Linked DNA regions of Homo sapiens: region 1 is linked to region 2. Evidence: fine-mapped expression QTL. A gene starts in region 2. The other region holds a variant in brackets. All regions are shown on one strand. Distances are from middle to middle.

What was found. PIP is the estimated chance that this variant, and not a neighbour inherited with it, causes the effect.
Region 1: its variant is fine-mapped to the expression of CDS2 in whole blood (INTERVAL, PIP 0.93).

What each region holds. Positions count from the first base shown.
Region 1 is chr20:5,158,611-5,167,582 of GRCh38, reverse strand. The region is part of intron 1 of CDS2 (CDP-diacylglycerol synthase 2); the gene reads right to left. Among named protein-coding and RNA genes, the nearest start is that of CDS2, 36 kb to the right of the region's middle. The variant C/T (reference allele first, on the strand shown) is at 4,667.
Region 2 is chr20:5,121,767-5,130,738 of GRCh38, reverse strand. CDS2 (CDP-diacylglycerol synthase 2) reads right to left here and starts at 3,731. Exons shown (of 13, transcript NM_003818.4): 1 at 3,590-3,731. The coding sequence starts at 3,646. It also overlaps a transcript of PCNA not described here. RefSeq lists enhancers at 2,893-2,982, 3,559-4,060 and a silencer at 3,323-4,242.

The DNA.
Region 1 (8,972 bases), 37 kb before region 2:
GAGTTCCTACTGAAAAAAAATATACATATATACATATATATACATATATCTGGCCAGTGTGTGACAGCATCCATTTGTGTGTGTATATTGTTGGGAATAACAAAGAAATACTTTTAGCCCTAATACTAACTCCATTTGACAAGTTCAATTGTCAGAACAAAACACCAAACAGAAGGAGGACCCCACTCTGAATGAGTTCACAGTCATCCCCAGTATGGCCATACCCTGTCCTTCAAAAGCCTCACAGCAATAATGGGATTCAAAGAAAATGTATTCAGCTACCCAGATGGACAGCTTCACTTCCGGCATCTCTAACAGGTTAACTGCACTCAGAGAAAGGACAAGAAAATACATGAATGTGGCAGATTCAGCTTCTTAAAACCTAACTGGCTGTGAGCCATTCTGTCTCCAGATAAAGCTATTTACAAAGGACCACAGGGGACTTGGTAGAGGACACAACACTGATGGCAAAGGACAACTGTCCCCAGGACAGCCACACTCGGAGTCAGCCATGTGCTTGCCATGCCTTCTCCTCCCACCTCCTTAGAGACTCACTCCATTGCCCTCTCCATCTTCTCATCTCTCTCCCTCACCACAGCCCTACTTACAACCATCTAGGCAGGCTCAACAAACAACTTCTGACAGCTCATCCAACCAATGCACTTTCTTCCCCACTTCATGGGTAAACCTCTGGGAAGAGCTGTCGACATTTCATGTCCCCTCCCTGGCTGTGCATCATTCCTCAAACCACAACAACCCAACTTCAACCCCACCTGTTCCACTGAAGCAGCTCTCCCAGGTCAACAAGGACTTTGTCACGAAACCCAGCAGGGACTCAGTCCTCACCTCGTTCAATCCCTCAGCAGCTTTTAATGCTACTATTGAAAAACACTCTTCCTCTGGCTTCCAAGCAGCACCTCCCCCTGGGTTGATGCCTGCCTCTCTGGCCAGGCATCTTTAGCTGACCTTCTCCTTAGGAACTGCCTCTTCATCAGCCTGTCCCCGCATTTGAGGGTTCCTTGGGGTTGGTCCTAAGCTCTCTTATTCTTCTGCTGCCTCCCACTCTCCCTGAGTTTCCCCATTCATTCTCATGCTCCCTGCTGTCTCTTCTTGAGCTACAGACCCTAAATCCAAATAACTACTAGATGTCTCCACAGACACCTAAAACTCACCATGTGTCCAAAACCAAGCTCATCATCTCTTCCCACAAACCTCTTCCTTCTACTATGTGACTTATCTTAGCAAATGGTACCCTTTCCCCGAATTTTCAAGAGAACAAGGTGGCCATCACCCTTAGTGGCTCCTTTCTCAGCTTGTAGATCTGTCACCAAGCTTGTTCATGCTACCTCCAAAACAGCTTTCAGTTGCATCCACTCCTTATGCCACCTGTCATTCCCTTAATTCAAGCCAACATCATCCCTCCTGAGTAACTGCAACAGCCTAACTGGCTACCTCACCTTCAGCCTAGAGTCCACTCCCACCTACGCTCTCGCCACTGCAACACGAGGACCTTCCCAGAAATTCTGATTGTGTCACTCTCCATCCTGAACCCCTTCCACAGCTCCCCAGTACCTAGATGACAGGTCTTCAAAATGGCATACAAGCCCCTTGAGATCAGGGTCTTATCTACTCATCCAGCCTTATCTCTTACAGCCATTCTGAACTAGAGTCAGTTTCTAGAACAGGTTGTACTTTCTTACCTTTAGGACTTTTGCTCCTGTGTTCCTACTTAAACAGTCTGCAAACCACCCTCTACTAAAACCCACTTCTCTTCCAGCAAATTTTCCTTGATCTTTTAAGAGTTCCCTTTCTCTCCAAATCTTCCCCAACTGCCTGTGTGTCCCAGCGGCCCCTGTCCTTCCTTAGGAGTGCTCCCCACCGTGGTTCATGCCTGTAATCCCAAAACTTTGGGAGGCCAAAGTGGGAGGATCGCCTAAGCCTAGGAGATTGAGGCTGCAGTGAGACCTGATCATGCCACTGCATTCCAGCCTAGATGACAGAGCAAGACCCTGTCTCAAAAAAACAAAAAAACAAAAAAAGACGGCTTCCCACACCGCATAGTCTCCGCCTCGAGACCATCATCTCTGTGGGGGAGCCATGTTGACTTCCTCACCACTGTACCCCCAGCACCTGGCCTGGCACCTAGAACCACATCTGCAGAGGCAGCCAGAGCCAATGATGCTGAGAGAATCCAGGGTTTGCTGAAGTGGCAGGTGTAGCTGGGCTACATGTCGCGTAGGCTGACAATTCATTTTTGCACTCAGTAGCACTAGAGGAGGCATTTTAGGGCTGCAGCCAGCTGTCCCACTGTTTATCTCCCCTTCTTCTTAGACATTTGTGGCCAAATGTATCCTAAGCAATACGGGGGTTTCCAAAAAAAGTACAGAATCTGTATGTCTCAGAAAGGATGAGGAAATCCTGTCTGAAATCCAGCTTCTAGGAATGCAAGGCTTTCTAACTCAAATACGTACAGTTGTACTGAGTCCCAACCTCTGCATGACTGCCAGTCTCATACATTAAACCCATAATTTTTGTGACAAGGAATGACCAGGAATCCTTTCTCCCAACACTCTCTCCCACCTTGCCCATTGAAGCCTCCTTCTGGAGTAGATGCATCTGTTTACTAACAGCAAGCATATGACTATAAATATGAAATAGCTGCAGGAAGTACCAACCTCCATCACAAGCCATTACTTAATTCAGAACAGAGACTATCAGAGACAAGAAAACCACTCAGGTCCCCAGGAGGCTCTGCCAACGGCTCTGTTCCGATGACATCACTTGTTTTCCTATTGTCTTCCAGGGTTAGGGGAAAGACACCAAAAATCAGAAGCCCCACTGGAGTCCAACGGGTCCTTCTATTATCAGTTCCTTAGTCGGGCATCTCTATTTAGTATTTAAGGGAAAATGAGTTTTCAGCGCTACTGGGGAAGGAAGGAATTTTTTTTTTTTTTCAGTTTATTAAGATAAAGCTCTCCCAAGGAGGGAGTATGTCTAATACTGCCAAAAGATCTAGTAAGATGGAGAAGAAAAATATATTCGCAATCTCAAAACTGGGCTCAAGTGTGCTCCCCAGACCTCTGTCAGGAAGTAGAACCAGGACAGCTGCTGGGCTCCACATGCGACGAGCCCCTAAATCATAAATCGCCATCTGGTACCTGCTTCACTGTCACTCACCTCACAATAGTGTTTTCTACAAAGATTCCTAGACAAAATAAGTAGACATGAGAGCAAATGTCCCCAGTGTCTCATGCCCCAACCTCCCCTACTCCTGTGGGCAGACAAGCACCCTGGGGCTGTTTACCATATTGGAACATTATATTGTCACTTTTGTAGTATTCCTGGTTTATAACCAACCATCATGGAATCAAGTACCAATCAAATAGACTGTAACTATTCAAGGGAGAAACTAGTATGTTTCTCCCTTGAAGAACATGGAATTAACAGTGTTCTCAATCCCAAATGTGTCATATTAGTTATAGAAGAAATTATGGGGTGGGTGCGGTGGCTCGTGCCTCTAATCCCAGCACTTCAGGAGGCCAAGGTGGGCAATCACCTGAGGTCAGGAGTTCAAGACCAGCCTGGCCGACATGGTGAAACTCCGTCTCTACTAAAAACACAAAAATTATCCAGGCGTGGTGGTGGGCACCTGTAATCCCAGCTACTTGGGAGGCTGAGGCAAGAGAACTGCTTGAACCTGGGAGGTAGAGGCTGCAGTGAGCCGAGTTTGCACCACTGCTTTCCAGCCTGGGCGACAGAGCTAGACTCTGCTTCAAAAAAAAAAAAAAAAAGAAAGAAAGAAATTATGAAAGCCACAATGCTAAATAGTTTCTTTCTCTTTTTGATAAATCACTAAGGATACCTGGGGAAAAAATTAAATTGAAAATGAGAAAGTCTTTGAAGAAACATTCCTAATGGCCAACGATAGGACAATTTGAGCATTAAAATAATAAACAAAAAGTGATTTAAACACAAGTATATGAAAATTTATGAGTTCATAATGATAACTGTAAGAAACTACTGGCCAGGCGCAGTGGCTCACGCCTATAATCCTAGCACTTTGGGAGGCCGAGGCGGGTGGATCACCTGAGGTTGGGAGTTCGAGACCAGCCTGACCAACAGGGAGAAACCCTGTCTCTACTAAAAACACAAAATTAGCAGGGAGTGGTGGCCCATGCCTGTACTCCCAGATACTCAGGAGGCTGAGGCAGGAGAATCGATTGAATCCGGGAGGTGGAGGTTATGGTGAGCTGAGATGGAGCCATTGCACTTCAGCCTGGGCAACAAGAGCAAAACTCTGTCTCAAAAAAATAAATAAAAATAAAAACGAAACAAAAAAAACTACTTTGGCCACCTCTGAAGGGTGCTGAAACACCAAATCTTTTTTTGAAAACCAGTAATTAAAAGGAAAGAGCCTCTCTACATTGCCCAGGCTGGTCTCGAACTTCTGGCCTCAAGTGATCCTCACGCTTTGGCCTCCCAAAGTGCTGGGAGAATAAGCATGAGCCACAGTACCTGGCCATCAAATTACTTTCAAATATCCATTACCCCAGCAAAGAAAAGTCAATGTGGCCTCAGTATGATCTCCCTAGGCTCTGGAGACTAAAGTGCATCTTCAAACATAAGTAAATAAAACAACCTCCATGCTGCCAAATCAGACAGATTC[C/T]CCTGCCTTCATCTTATCATATATCTTGGCAATGTCAGATCTAGTTGACCATTTCCTCCTTGAAACATTCTCCTCTCAGCTACCTCCATACCATACTTATCAGGTTCTCACTCTACCTGACTGGCTGCTCTTTCTCAGTCTCCTGTGACTTTGAAGTCTACCTGACTTCAAAATGTTGAATGGGCCCTGGGCTCAGTTCTGGACCTACCACACTCTCTCCCTAGGTATCATCATCCAGCCCCTTGGCTTTAATTACCAATTCCATGCCAATGACCCCAACATTTGTATCTCCAACCCCAACTTCTCCCCCAAGCTTCAGATTCATATTTCCAACCACTTACTGACATCTCCACGAGAAAGTTCTTACAGGCATCTCAAAAGTAACACATCTAAACAGAACACTTTTGACATTGTCCGTAAAACTACTGATCCTGAAGTCTTGCCTAGTCAATCAGTTGACAGCATGCGAGTCTATATACCCTGCATAAGCCAGAAACCTGAGAGGTAGCGATTGAATACCCCTTAACCAAAATGCTTGAGACCGGAAGTGTTTTGCATTTCAGAGTTCTTTTCAGAATTTGGAATATTTGCATTATACTTACTGGCTGAGCATCCCTAATCAGAAAATCCTAAATTCAAAATGCTCCAATGAGCATTTCCTTTGAGCATCACATTGGCACTCAAAAAGTTTCAGATTTTGAAAATTTCAAATTTTTGATTTTGGGATGTTCGACCCTTAATTCTTATCTCCCTATCTTCCCCCAGGTACTGGACACTGCAGTTGGTTCCCTCCTAAAAATCCATAAACTATTTCATGGTATACAGCAGCTTGTACAGTCTACTTATTTTTAATTCTGCCCCTCTGCCACAGTGATAGGTTCACGAACAGGCATTTACCCCAGCCTAAGGCAATGTGCACCTTGACTGTTTTGGAGTAGGCACTTGACCCAAGATGGTACAAGCAGTTCAAACAGCAAAAATAGCTAATGGCATTTTAGGCTATATTAACACAGGCATGGTCTGGTTCTAGTTAGCGTTAGTCAAACTTTACTTAGAGGCCAAGTACGTCCAATAGAGTGGTTAAAACAGTAAGGAGACAAAAAAGAGCAAGACGATAAAATGAACAGATGAAGAAACCAGAAGGGCTAGGCCTGGAGACAACTGGGAAATGAGCATACTCTACTGCAGTACTGAAAAGGAGAAACTGGTTTTATGTCCCTAACAAGGAAAAATTATTAGGTAAATTACGGTAAATCAACTTTCTGTGCAGCTATTAACAAGACTACTATAAACACCGTGCAGCAACATGAAAAAGGCAGAATATAAAACTATGTCTATACTGGATTATACTACTTACACAAAGTATGTGTCAGTTATCAATGGATTGCCTCTCAATGTATGTGTCAGTTATCAATTGATTGAATCCTTGGGACTCTGCTGGGCTTGGATCAATCCCTTTCAGGTCCACTGCTACCTCCAGGTTTTGTCAGTATAGAACTTTCTGCAATAATGGAAATGTTCTCTCTATACTGTCCAATATGAGAGCCACAGCTGTGTGTGGCTTATTGAACAATTAAAATGTGGCTAGCGAGACTAAGGAAGTGAATTTATGTATTTATTTTTAATTAAATTTAAACTGCCACACACTTCACATCCACTAGAGTGGCTATTTTCAAAAAAGAAAAAAGAAAAACCAAAATAACAAGTACTGGAGAAGATGTGAAAAAACTGAAACCCTTGTGCACTGTTGGTCAGAATGTAAAATAATGCAGCTGCTATAGTAAACAGCCTGGCAGTTCCTCAAAAAATCAAATATAGAATTACCACATGACTCAGCAATTCCACTTCTGGGTATATACCCAAAAGAACTGAGGGCAGGGACTCAAAGAGATATTTGTACACCCATGTTCATAGCAGCCTTATTCACAATAAACAAAAAAGTAGAAGCAATCCAAGTATCTATCAACAAAGGAATGAACAAAATGTAGTATACATATACAGTGGCATATTATTCAGCCTTAAAAAGGAAGGAAATTCTCACACATGCTACCACATGGATGAACCTTGAGGACATTGTGCTAAGTGAAATAAGCCACACACAAAAGGACAAATATATGATTCCACTTACATGAGGTACCTAGAGTAGTCAAATTCGTAGAGACAGAAAATAGAATGGTGGTTGTCAGGGGCTGGGGGAGTGAGAGGGGAGAGTTGTTTAATGGGTACAGAGTTTCATTTGGGGAAGATGAAAATATTCTGGAATGTTTGTTCTGGTGACAGTTGCAAAACAATGTTAACGTACTCAATGCCATAGAACCATACACTTGAAAATGGTTAAAATTATCAATTTTATGATATATATAATATTTAGCCACAGTAAGAAAAGGTTTAATTGGCCACATGTGGCTAGTGGCTACTATACTGGACAATGCAGACAGTCTAACAGCTGTATCCACCCCAACCTGCAACCAGGAAGAAAACTGCTAAGGCTCCCCAAAACTCTGGTTCCCCTACTACTGTGAGGAGGGGGCTAGAACCCCCAACACCACCTCAGCAACCTACAACTTCTAGTCCTCAACAGCCAGGTGAACAGGATTCTGAACAAGGTTCAACCAGTCAAGGGCAGACCTACCCCTTCAGCAAGCATATGAAGTGTTAAGTAGTTGCAGGGCTAAGAAAAGACCTAAGCAAAGCCATCCTCAGCAGAGATGCCGGCTCTCCCCTGCCTTTCTTTTAAATTTAATTCAGTGGCCAGTTACTACTCTGCCTTTTAATAGCAGCAGCAACAGATGAAACAGTTGTGATTCTCGCAGCATCAAATGGCAGTGGCACAAACAGCTCAGCTTCATCATCATCGGCATATGAGCAGCCAGTCAAAAACTAAAATGAAGAAGGCATATCAACCACTCCAATATTCTGAATCTTGCATTATTTTTTCCTCTTTTTTAAAAACATAAGGGCACTGAATCACAAGGATTCTGAGTTTTTACTTCATTTTTAAAAATGTGTCAGTAATTTATACTGCTAAGATGTACAAACTTTACACAGGTGCACAACCCCATTTTTTTTAAGTAAAAACAGGGTAATTATTTAACAAACTAGGGTTGGTTTGCTTTTTAAACTGCACATAATATATATGGAAATGACCTAAAAATTACTAGAAAAATCTTTCAAAAGAACCCAGTTTGGTATATATTTTGTAGAAAAGGTTTGTGAATAATGTAACAAATACAATTTTTACAAATCTGTTTTGGGGGAAAAGAGGAACAGAACAAAGCAGTTACCATCTGCACAGGCATTATTATTCCTTTGACATCTTGCTAATAGTCTGTTAATGAACATCAAAACACCTAAAATTTTCTTCTGATGCTTTACAAAGATTCCTTACACTTGTTTACATGCAAATCATCCAAAACAAAAAGAAAAAAACTATAATATACTTTTAAATTACTGAACTATAAAATTTTAACATAATTTCATCTTCAAATGAATTTATCAAGACCATTGAGTCATTTTTTGATGCTTCTCTGTTCTACATTATCTGACATAAAATTTATGTCACACACTGGGGCCTGTTGTGGGGTGGGGGGAGGGGGAGGGAAAGCATTAGGAGAAATACCTAATGTAAATGACGAGTTAATGGGTGCAGCACACCAACATGGCACATGTATACATATGTAACAAACCTGCACGTTGTGCACATGTACCCTAGAACTTAAAGTATAATTTAAAATATATATTAAAAAAAAGAAAATGTAACACATTAGATTTCTGATATTAATTTGAAATGAATAACAAAATTTAGTCAAGTTTGTAAAGGTCTTAAATGTTTGATAAAACTTTACTACAAAAAAAAAATTCAATCTGATTTTCAAAGCGGCTCGCTTATCCTTCTGTTCCATCGCAAAGACACATGGGTTAAAGCAAGGTTTTCCTAACATCAAGTGCCTCACCCTCACCTGTGCTGAGATAACAGCGTGAAGGAGTCTCAATTCATCTTCACTGTCAGATTTAAATTTTGTTTGGAGAACCCCTAACGTATCAGCAGAGAACACAGTTTGCAAATCACTGCAAAACACCACCATATATCTCTGACAAATGAGTTATTACTACTTGAGGATGCACCTTGTAAGATACAACGATCACCCAGTATTAAATTCCTACTGTGTCCCCAAACCGCTAGCTGCTCAGAAATTGGCTGTGTTCTCATTCTGTCACTCCAACCAGAAACTGGGGTACATAGTGGTGGCTCTGTTTGTACATATCAAACCAAGATTCACAAGCTTTACTGTTAATAGAAAAGTCT
Region 2 (8,972 bases):
CAATCTCGGCTCACCGGAACCTCTGCCTCCCAAGTTCAAGCGATTCTCCTGCCTCAGCCTCCTGAGTAGCTGGGATTACAGGCATGCACCACCACGCCCGGCTAATTTTGTATTTTTAGTAGAGACGGGGTTTCTACTAAAACCCCGTTGGTCAGGCTGGTCTCGAACTCCTGACCTCAGGTGATCTGCCCACCTCAGCCTCCCAAAGTGCTGGGATTACAGGCGTGAGCCACCGCGCCCAGCCTATTCCAGAGCTTTTAAAGCACTGACTTGAAAATTGTTCACTGGATTCTTCTACTATGAAATTAAAAAGTTCTTGTTTCATAATGCATTTCCTTAAAATTTATTATTTCTAATTTCCTTGGGTTCTAACACAAGAATATTGGCAAAGCCAAAGTCATGGAAGTAGGTGTTTCCCAAACTATGAAACAGAATAAATCAGGATTTTTTAAAAGTTTACTATGGGCCGGGCACGGTGGCTCACACCTGTAATCCCAGCACTTTGGGAGGCCAAAGTGGGTAGATCACCTGAGGTCAGGAGTTCGAGACCAACCTGGCCAACATGGTGAAACCTCGTCTCTACTAAAAACACAAAAAAATTAGCCAGTCGTGATGGCAGGCACCTGTAATCCCAGGTACTGGGGAAGCTAAGGCAGGAGAATTGCTTGAACACGGGAGGTGGAGGTTGCAGTGAGCCGAGATTGTGCCATTGCACTCCAGCCTGGGCAACAAGAGCGAAACTCTGTCTCAAAAAAAAACAAAAAAACAAACCAACAAACAAAAGTTTACTATATACATTCAAAGACAAATAATAGATTTCACAGTTTTTAAAATGTTCCCTTATTAAAAATCCCAAACATGGCCAGGTGTGGTGGCTCACGTCTGTAGTCTCAGCACTTTGGGAGACCGAGGCGGGCAGATCACGAAGTCAGGAGTTCAAGACCAGCCTGGCCAATACAGTGAAACCCCATCTCTACTAAAAATACAAAAAAAAAAACGCCAGGTACAGTGGCTCATGCCTATAATCCCAGCACTTTGGGAAGCTGAGGCGGGAGGATCACCTAAGGTTGGGAGTTTGAGGCCAGCCTGACCAACATTGAGAAGCCGTGCCTCTACTAAAAATACAACATTAGCCGGGCATGGTAGCACACGCCTGCAGTCCCAGCTACTCGGGCGGCTGAGGCAGGAGAATTGCTTGAACCTGGGAGGTAGAGGTTGCGATGAGCCAACATCATGCCATTGCACTCCAGCCTGGGCAAAAGAGCGAAACTCCCTCTCAAAAAAAAAAAAAAAAATTAGCCGAGCGTGGTGGCGGATGCCTATAGTCCCAGCTACTCAGGAGGCTGAGGCAGGAGACTAGCTTGAACCTGGGAGGCAGAGGTTGCAGTGAGCTGAGATCGTGCCACTGCACTCCAGCCTGGGCGACAGAGAGAGACTCCGTCTAAAAAAATAATAATAATAAAATCCCATACATGACAATTCAGTGACAATTGAGAAGTTCTGAATAATGGGGTGAGGAACTGATTGTCTTGTTCTCGGTAATGAACATCAGGCTTTTAACAGAGTGCATAGCAGCTGTCTTTTAGGAAACAACACGCCACAAGTGGACCTCATGACCCCAGGCATTCTGTCACTGTATAAGTGATATAAGTGCACCTCTAGCTGGACAGCTCCTCAGGTCCTCCCAGTCTAAAGTACAGGATGTGAAAGTAAGACGGTTCAACTCGCACTTTATCTCTGGGGGATGGATCCAACGAGTCCGGGAAGGAGGGTAGAATCTTTATGTTGCATCTCATAATCCCAAGGTTGTTTTTTGACATTCTAATTATTGTACATAGTTAGCTTTTCAAAAACATGGCCCACCAGCTATCATGCCTTCTTTCTTCTCTCTCTCCTCACACCTTCTAGGTCCACAAAGTCCCACTAACATCAAGCATGATCTCACCCTTAAACAGAGCTACAGAGCCTCCAAACATCTGCATACTCACCAACTAGTAGTACAAGGTAAGTCAGAATTCTTTCAGGCTGAACCAGGATAGCCAAATGAAAAATTAGAGACTTCAAAGTATCTTGTCTCTGCAAGCGACTGCTAAATCCTCAGCCCCAGCCCTAAATGTTCTCCAAAATATGTTTTTGTTTTTGTTTTTTGAGACAGGGTCTCAAACTCCTGGGCTCAAGCGATCCTCCTGCCTCAGCCTCCCTAGAAGCTAGGATTACAGGCGAGCAGCACTGTGCCTGGCCAAAATATATGTTCTAAAAATCGGTAGGAACAGTTCTCTTTGGATAGTCCACTGTCAACTGCAATAACACGAAAGTTGTTTAAAAAAAACCCATGATCTCATTATCTTTCACCAAAAACATTCCTCCTAGTGTAACTGCTCTGTTGACATCCTGTCACCAAATCTTGTGCTTTCTTCCTTCTGGGTGTCTCCCTAATGTCCGTTGCGTCCAGTCATCAAAAAGTTACAGGCTGCATTAGGGGAAGCCGTGAGCCTGGTGTAAGGCAACAGGGATTGGTGGGAACCGATGATCCTCAGCTCCAGCCAACCATTGAGCAGGTGACAAAGTGATGGTGGACCCTCCAATTATCTAAGACAGGCAAGAAATTTAGATTGTTAGGAGAAACTTTCTGATTTTTAAGGCAATATGTGGGCCAAAGAAAACATCTACAGGTCACTCATGGGCAATCCCGAGTGAACCAGGCTCCCTCAGTCTGGTCCAGGCTCCCTCAGTCCCTTCTACACATCACTGTCTGATCAGTTTCCCAAACACAGGGCTCCTGATCACTGCTATCTCGGAAAGCACAACTACTGCTACAAAGTCCTATACTGCCATTCAACCTCCACAGTAATAAAACCAATCCCTACCTTCCTTAACTCCCCTACACAGATCTTTCACTTCACCCAAAGGAGTCCACTCCCCCACCCGTCACCCCCGCCACTGTCCCCGCCAAGATGGCCTCCTTCCTACTCTCCTCCCCTACCCACCAGAGCCCACACGGTGCAGGAAACAACCCATCAACCGGGAGGACGCCCTCCAACACCTGCTGATGACGGACTGGCTCACTGGGTAACACCCCTTTGCTCAAAGCCGATGATTTCATGCCCAAGAAGGGATTTACATCTCCCAGGAGGCAAATGCTATGGCCTTGTCCTGATTCCCCCACCCCCCAAAATAATAACATTGTAAAAGGGAACGGAGAGCCTAAGTTGCGCTCAGAGGAGCCGCCTCCCTAAGAAGGCTCTGCATATCTTCACCTCCAGGAAGGCCTCACGGAGTTGGGGGAGAGGGGAGTCCCCGCAGCCAGCCCAGCGAGGCAGGAGGCCGTGCGCCACTCCCGAGAAGCTCCTTCCTGCGCCCCGGGGGAGCCACTTCAGTCAGACCCTGAGCCGGGACCCCGACCCGCCGACCCCTGACGCGCGCGCCGCGAAGGCCGGGCACCCGAGGGCCCTTCGCGCTACCCGGGCCCGGGGCCGCCGTCGGCTGCGACAAAGGGTCAGAGAACAAGACGACCCCTCTGCGCGCGTCCCCCGCAGGCCTCCCGGATGCGCCGCTGTCCCGGCCGCGCCCACCCCGACGCTGCCGCTACCTTGTCCTCGGGTGGCGCAACCGGCTCATGGGCCACCCTCTGCCTCAGCTCTGTCATCCTGGGAAAATCGGCCCGACGTCGCCGCGAGCTAGCAGCGAAGCCGCCGGAGCAGGCAGCTCGGCGCGGGCACGCGCGGACTCCCACGGCCGGCCCCGCCCCGCCCGGGAGGCGCGCGGCTCTGAGCGGCTCACAGTTCCCTTAGCAGCCCAGCAGCCAGCCCTGGAGCTCGGCCCCACCCAGTGCCGTCACCGCCCTTTCACCCGGGCCGAGCGGGGTCAGCCTTCCCTAGCCCCGACCCGAGAGCTCCCTCTCCCGGGAGCAGGGCTCGGAGCGAGTGCGCACGCGCAGCGCCACCATCACGGTCCGGAATATCCACCAATGGCGCAAATACGCCAGGGAGGCAGGGCGACGGGGGCGGGGCGGGGCGGAGCAGAGTCGAGAGGCGCGCATTGGACGGCAGCGTCAGGGGCGGGAAAAGGCGTGCGTTTCAGTGTGCGATTAGCCAATGGGAGCTCCCGCTTAACCGCGGATGGCCGGAGCTGGCGCCCTGGTTCTGGAGGTAACCGGTTACTGAGGGCGAGAAGCGCCACCCGGAGGCTCTAGCCTGACAAATGCTTGCTGACCTGGGCCAGAGCTCTTCCCTTACGCAAGTAAGTAGACGTTATTTAGGTCGAATGGAAAGGCCAGGTGAGCCGACCTGGTTAAGAGCATTTTATCACTTATCACATGATGAGAAATGAAACCCACGCTTCAGTCTGCTTTGCTTTGCCAAGCGGTCGCTAGTACTTGTTAAGCACTAATTGTATACTAGGCACTGAGCTGAGTAATCGCTTTAGTTGGCTTATCTCGTTTAATCCACACATGGCTTGGAAGTGGGTATGATTTGAATTTTACAGTTAAGATCTTCCTCAGTGGTTTGTTTGTTTGTTCGTTTGTTTGTTTGTTTTGTGACGGAGTCTCGCTCTGTCGCCCAGGCTGGAGTGCAGTGGCATGATCTCGACTCACTGCAACCTCTGCCTCCCGGGCGCAAACAATTCCAAGGTGCGCGCCACCACGCCCGGCTAACTTTTGTATTTTTAGTAGAGACGGGGTTTCACCATATTGGTCAGGCTGGTCTCGAACTCCTGACCTCAGGTGATCCGTCCGCCTCCGCCTTCCAAAGTGCTGGGATTACAGGCGTGAGCCACCGAGCCTGGCCCTTCCTCAGTTTTTCAAATTTGTCTTCTGGACTATGGAAAGACCTTTTTTGGGACAGAAGTGCTGTCTACTTTGTTTACTGTGCATCCTCTATGTCTTTGACACATCCATTGTAAGTACTTGTTGGATGGATTTAAAACTTTTAAAAGGACCTTAGCCAAGGTCTCCCAGCTAGAAAGTGCCTAGTAAGAATTAGAACACAAACAGGTTTGTTACCAGCCCACACTCTAACCACCATACTATACTGCCTGCCTGCATTTATTAATACTTGTGTTGCTCCAGCATTGCCTTTGGTGTTTCCTGTTCTTTCTATTCACTGCCCTGTAAGTGATGTAAAACACATATAACACTGCGTCCCCAACTTAAGCATACTGTAATCTCACAATGAGACACTTGCACACAAAAGAATTGCAATTTCGTTTTTTAAAAAAATATAATTTTACATTTTTCTTCTTTTCAATTTTTAAATTTTAATTAATTTATTTCTCCTTTTTTTAGAGACAGGGTCTCACTATGTTGCCCAGACTGGTCTTGAACTCCTGGGTTCAAGAGATCCTCCCGCCTAGGTCTCCCAAAGTGCTGGGATTACAGGCATGAGCTACCATGCCTGGCTAAAATTTCCTATTGGTAATTTTGACCTGAGCTGTGAGTTTTGGGGCAGGTAGTGAGAATTCTGAAAACAGCATTATATATTCCTGATTTCTATATGAGTATATGCCCGAGTAGCTTGGACTACAGGTGTGCAGCACCACACCCAGCTAACTTTTAAATTTTTGTGTAGCGATGAAGTCTCACTTTATTGCTTAGGCTGGTCTTAAACTCCTGGGCTCGAGCAATCCTCCCACATAGGCCTCCTAAAGTTCTGGGATTACAGGCATGAGCCACAGCACTCGAGCAAGATGATCTTCTAAGACAGGTGAAGATGTTAGTGTCTAGAACTTCACCTTCAGGGGCACGTAGGTATGAAAGGTCATATCTAAGTGAGTGTCATGTCAGTCCTTCTAGAAACTCAGCTGCTCCTTTTCAAATCCAGCCTAATAAAAGGAGGCTTGGAGAATCAATGCACATAAGTCAGAATTATAGAATGCACAGCATGATTACTAGGATGGATAACATGTGGTCTGAACAAACTTCTCATCCATTACACTCAGCCCTCTCAGGTTAATGGAACTCAGATCAAGTATATTCCTGAAGTCAGTACTGTGTGACGAACAGGGGTCTGGTGGAAGTGATGCTAATAGGGCTTTAGGCCAGCTTTAGAGCCCTTCTCTCTCTCTCTTTTCGTTTTTTGTTTTCTTTTTGTTTGTTTTTTGTTTTTTTTTTTTAGACAGTTTCCCTCTTGTTGCTCAGGCTGGAGTGCAATGGTGTGATCTCGGCTCACTGCAACCTCCGCCTCCCAGGTTCAAGCAATTCTCCTGTCTCAGCCTCCCGAGTAGCTGGGACTACAGGCGCCCGCCACCACAGCTGGCTAATTTTTGTATTTTTAGTAGAGACAGGGGTTTTAGGTCAGGCTGGTTTTGAATTCTTGACCTCAGGTGATCCGCCCACCTGGGCCTCCCAAAGTGCTGGGATTACAGGCATCAGCCACTGCACCTGGCTCAAGAAACATTCTTAAGCATGCTTGATCTTGGTAAATGCCCCTGATTTCTTCTGTAGGAAAAAACCCTAGAGATCGAATTTCTGTGTCAAAGAATAAGTAAAATTCTAAGGCTTTTGATACACATTTCTAAGTTTCCACCAGAAAAATTATACCAATGTATACTCCCACTTGCAATGTATTTAAGTGCCTACTTCCTTGAATCCTTCCTAACACACCAGGTGTTAACATGATTTTTATTAATTTGGTAGGTTAAAATTCTGTCTCCATTGAATTTACATTTCTTTGCTTATTAATGTGGCTAACAAACTTCACGTTTATGAAGACTAGGACTGGACAGTGGAGGCCAGATACCTCTGGCTTTTTGTTTAGATGAATAAATTTTCTATTTCTCTTAATCCATTCAAGTTGAGTTCTCTGTCACTGAAACCTAAACTATACTAACCAATATAATCCTTTGAGGCATACTGAAGTCTTAAAACTTGTATGGTTATTCATTATGTTTTATGGGTTTTTTTCTTATGTTTGGAAGCCCATAGGAAGATCTCATAAATATTTACCAAAATATTTTTCCATTTCTTATTGGGTCAAGATTTGAATTTGAATTCTTTATCTAGAATTTAGTGAATAATTATTAGGAAAAGTCTTTTTTTTTTTTTTTGAGATGGAGGTTTGCTCTGTCACCCAGGCTGGAGTACAGTGGCGCAATCTTGGTTCACTGCAACCTCTGCCTCCCGGGTTCAAGCAATTCTCCTGCGTCAGCCTCCCTAGTATCTGGAATTACAGGTGTGCACCACCACGCCCAGCTAATTTTTGTATTTTTAGTAGAGACGGGGTTTCACCATGTTGGCCTGGCTGGTCTCGAACTCCTGACCTCAGATGATCCACCTACCTCAGCCTCCCAAAGTTCTGGGATTACAGGCATGAGCCACTGCGCCCATCCAGAAAAGTCTACAGCTTTTATTCTTTTCTAATAGTTTAACCAATTATCTGATCAAAATTTACTTCATTCTTTCTCCCACTGATCCAATAGTACCTTTACTAGATGTTAGAGTAGCCACTTAAAATGTAAATTGGATCACATCAAAGATCTGCTGTTGACCACATTCCCTTGCACTTTTAGAGAGCCTACAAAGTCCTGCAAGAGCTCACCCCAGCCTCTCTGCAACCTCACCTTGCACCACTCTTGCTTCAGACACATCAGTCTGAGTTCTACATCAAACTTGTCTGAATATATTCCAAGTATGCTGACCTTTATAATCATGCTATTCTCTCAGCCTAGAATGCTTTTTTCCAACTCTCCAAGCAGCTGTCTTCTCTGATAAGATGCTACCTCCTCAGAGAGGCCTTCTCTGACCACAGTCATAGGCATGTTTATGTCCTCATTTCAGTTTAACATAAAATTTACGTAACTGTACACCTCTTTATCATTTGACACTTTTAGGAGGACATCACTTCTGTAATAGAGCAGAAATAAACAGATTGATGTACATGGTGGATCCCCCATGGATAGAGTTTGTCATTTAAAATGTCTTCAAATCTATTACATGTAATTTGGCATTAAACCAAAATGTTATTATGTAAGCAGACAGAACTGAAACAGAGTAGTGGAGCATATGCATTTGTTTTTAGTGAAGCAAATGTTCCTCACTGGAGGAAGGAACACATTCCACATTTTGCAAAGGAACTGAGATTTTAACGGACCCAAGAAAGGAAAAGAACCACAAACAGATGATGCTGTATTATGTTTTGATATTGAGATGTATGCAAATGGGTAGTCCATCACACATAAAGCAAGAAAGTGCCAACATCAAAACTTACAAATGAGTAGCAGAGGCTTGCAAGAAATTCCAGAGACAATAGAATAGCACTATTGAAAAATACTGCATCATCAATACCCTTGACAACACAGAGTAGGATATTATACAGAAAAACAGCAGAATCAGCAACTAACTGAGTGGAGAAACAGTAGGAATGCCTTAACCAATGTAGCTTAAATTTTTTCATGTTTGCACAAGAGTAATATATAATAAGAATGTTTTTAAAGTCTAAAAGTTCTTTTAAAACAAAATAGACCCGGGCGCGGTGGCTCATGCCTGTAATCCCAGCACTTTGGGAGGCCAAGGCAGGCAGATCACATGAGGTCAGGAGTTCAAGACCAACCTGGCCAACATGGCAAAACCCCGTCTCTACTAAAAATACAAAAATTAGCCAGGTGTGATGGCGCATGCCTGTAATCCTAGCTATTCAGGAGGCTGAGGCATGAGAATTGCTTGAACCCAGGAGGCGGAGATTGCGGTTAGCCAAGATCACACCACTGCACTCCAGCCTGGGTGATAGAGTGAGACTCTGTCTCAGAAAAAAAAAAAAGAAAAAGAAAAAGAAAAAAAAAAAGAAATTCTAAGTGATAAAGCATTGTGTAACAGTTTGAGGCTGGGCACAGTGGCTCATGCCTGTAATCTCACACTTTGGGAGACCGATTGGGAAGATTGCTTGAGCCCAGGAGTTGGAGACCAGCCAGAGCGACATAGTGGGACCTTCTCTCTACAAAAACATTTAAAAATTAGCCAGGTACAGTGGTGCACCCCT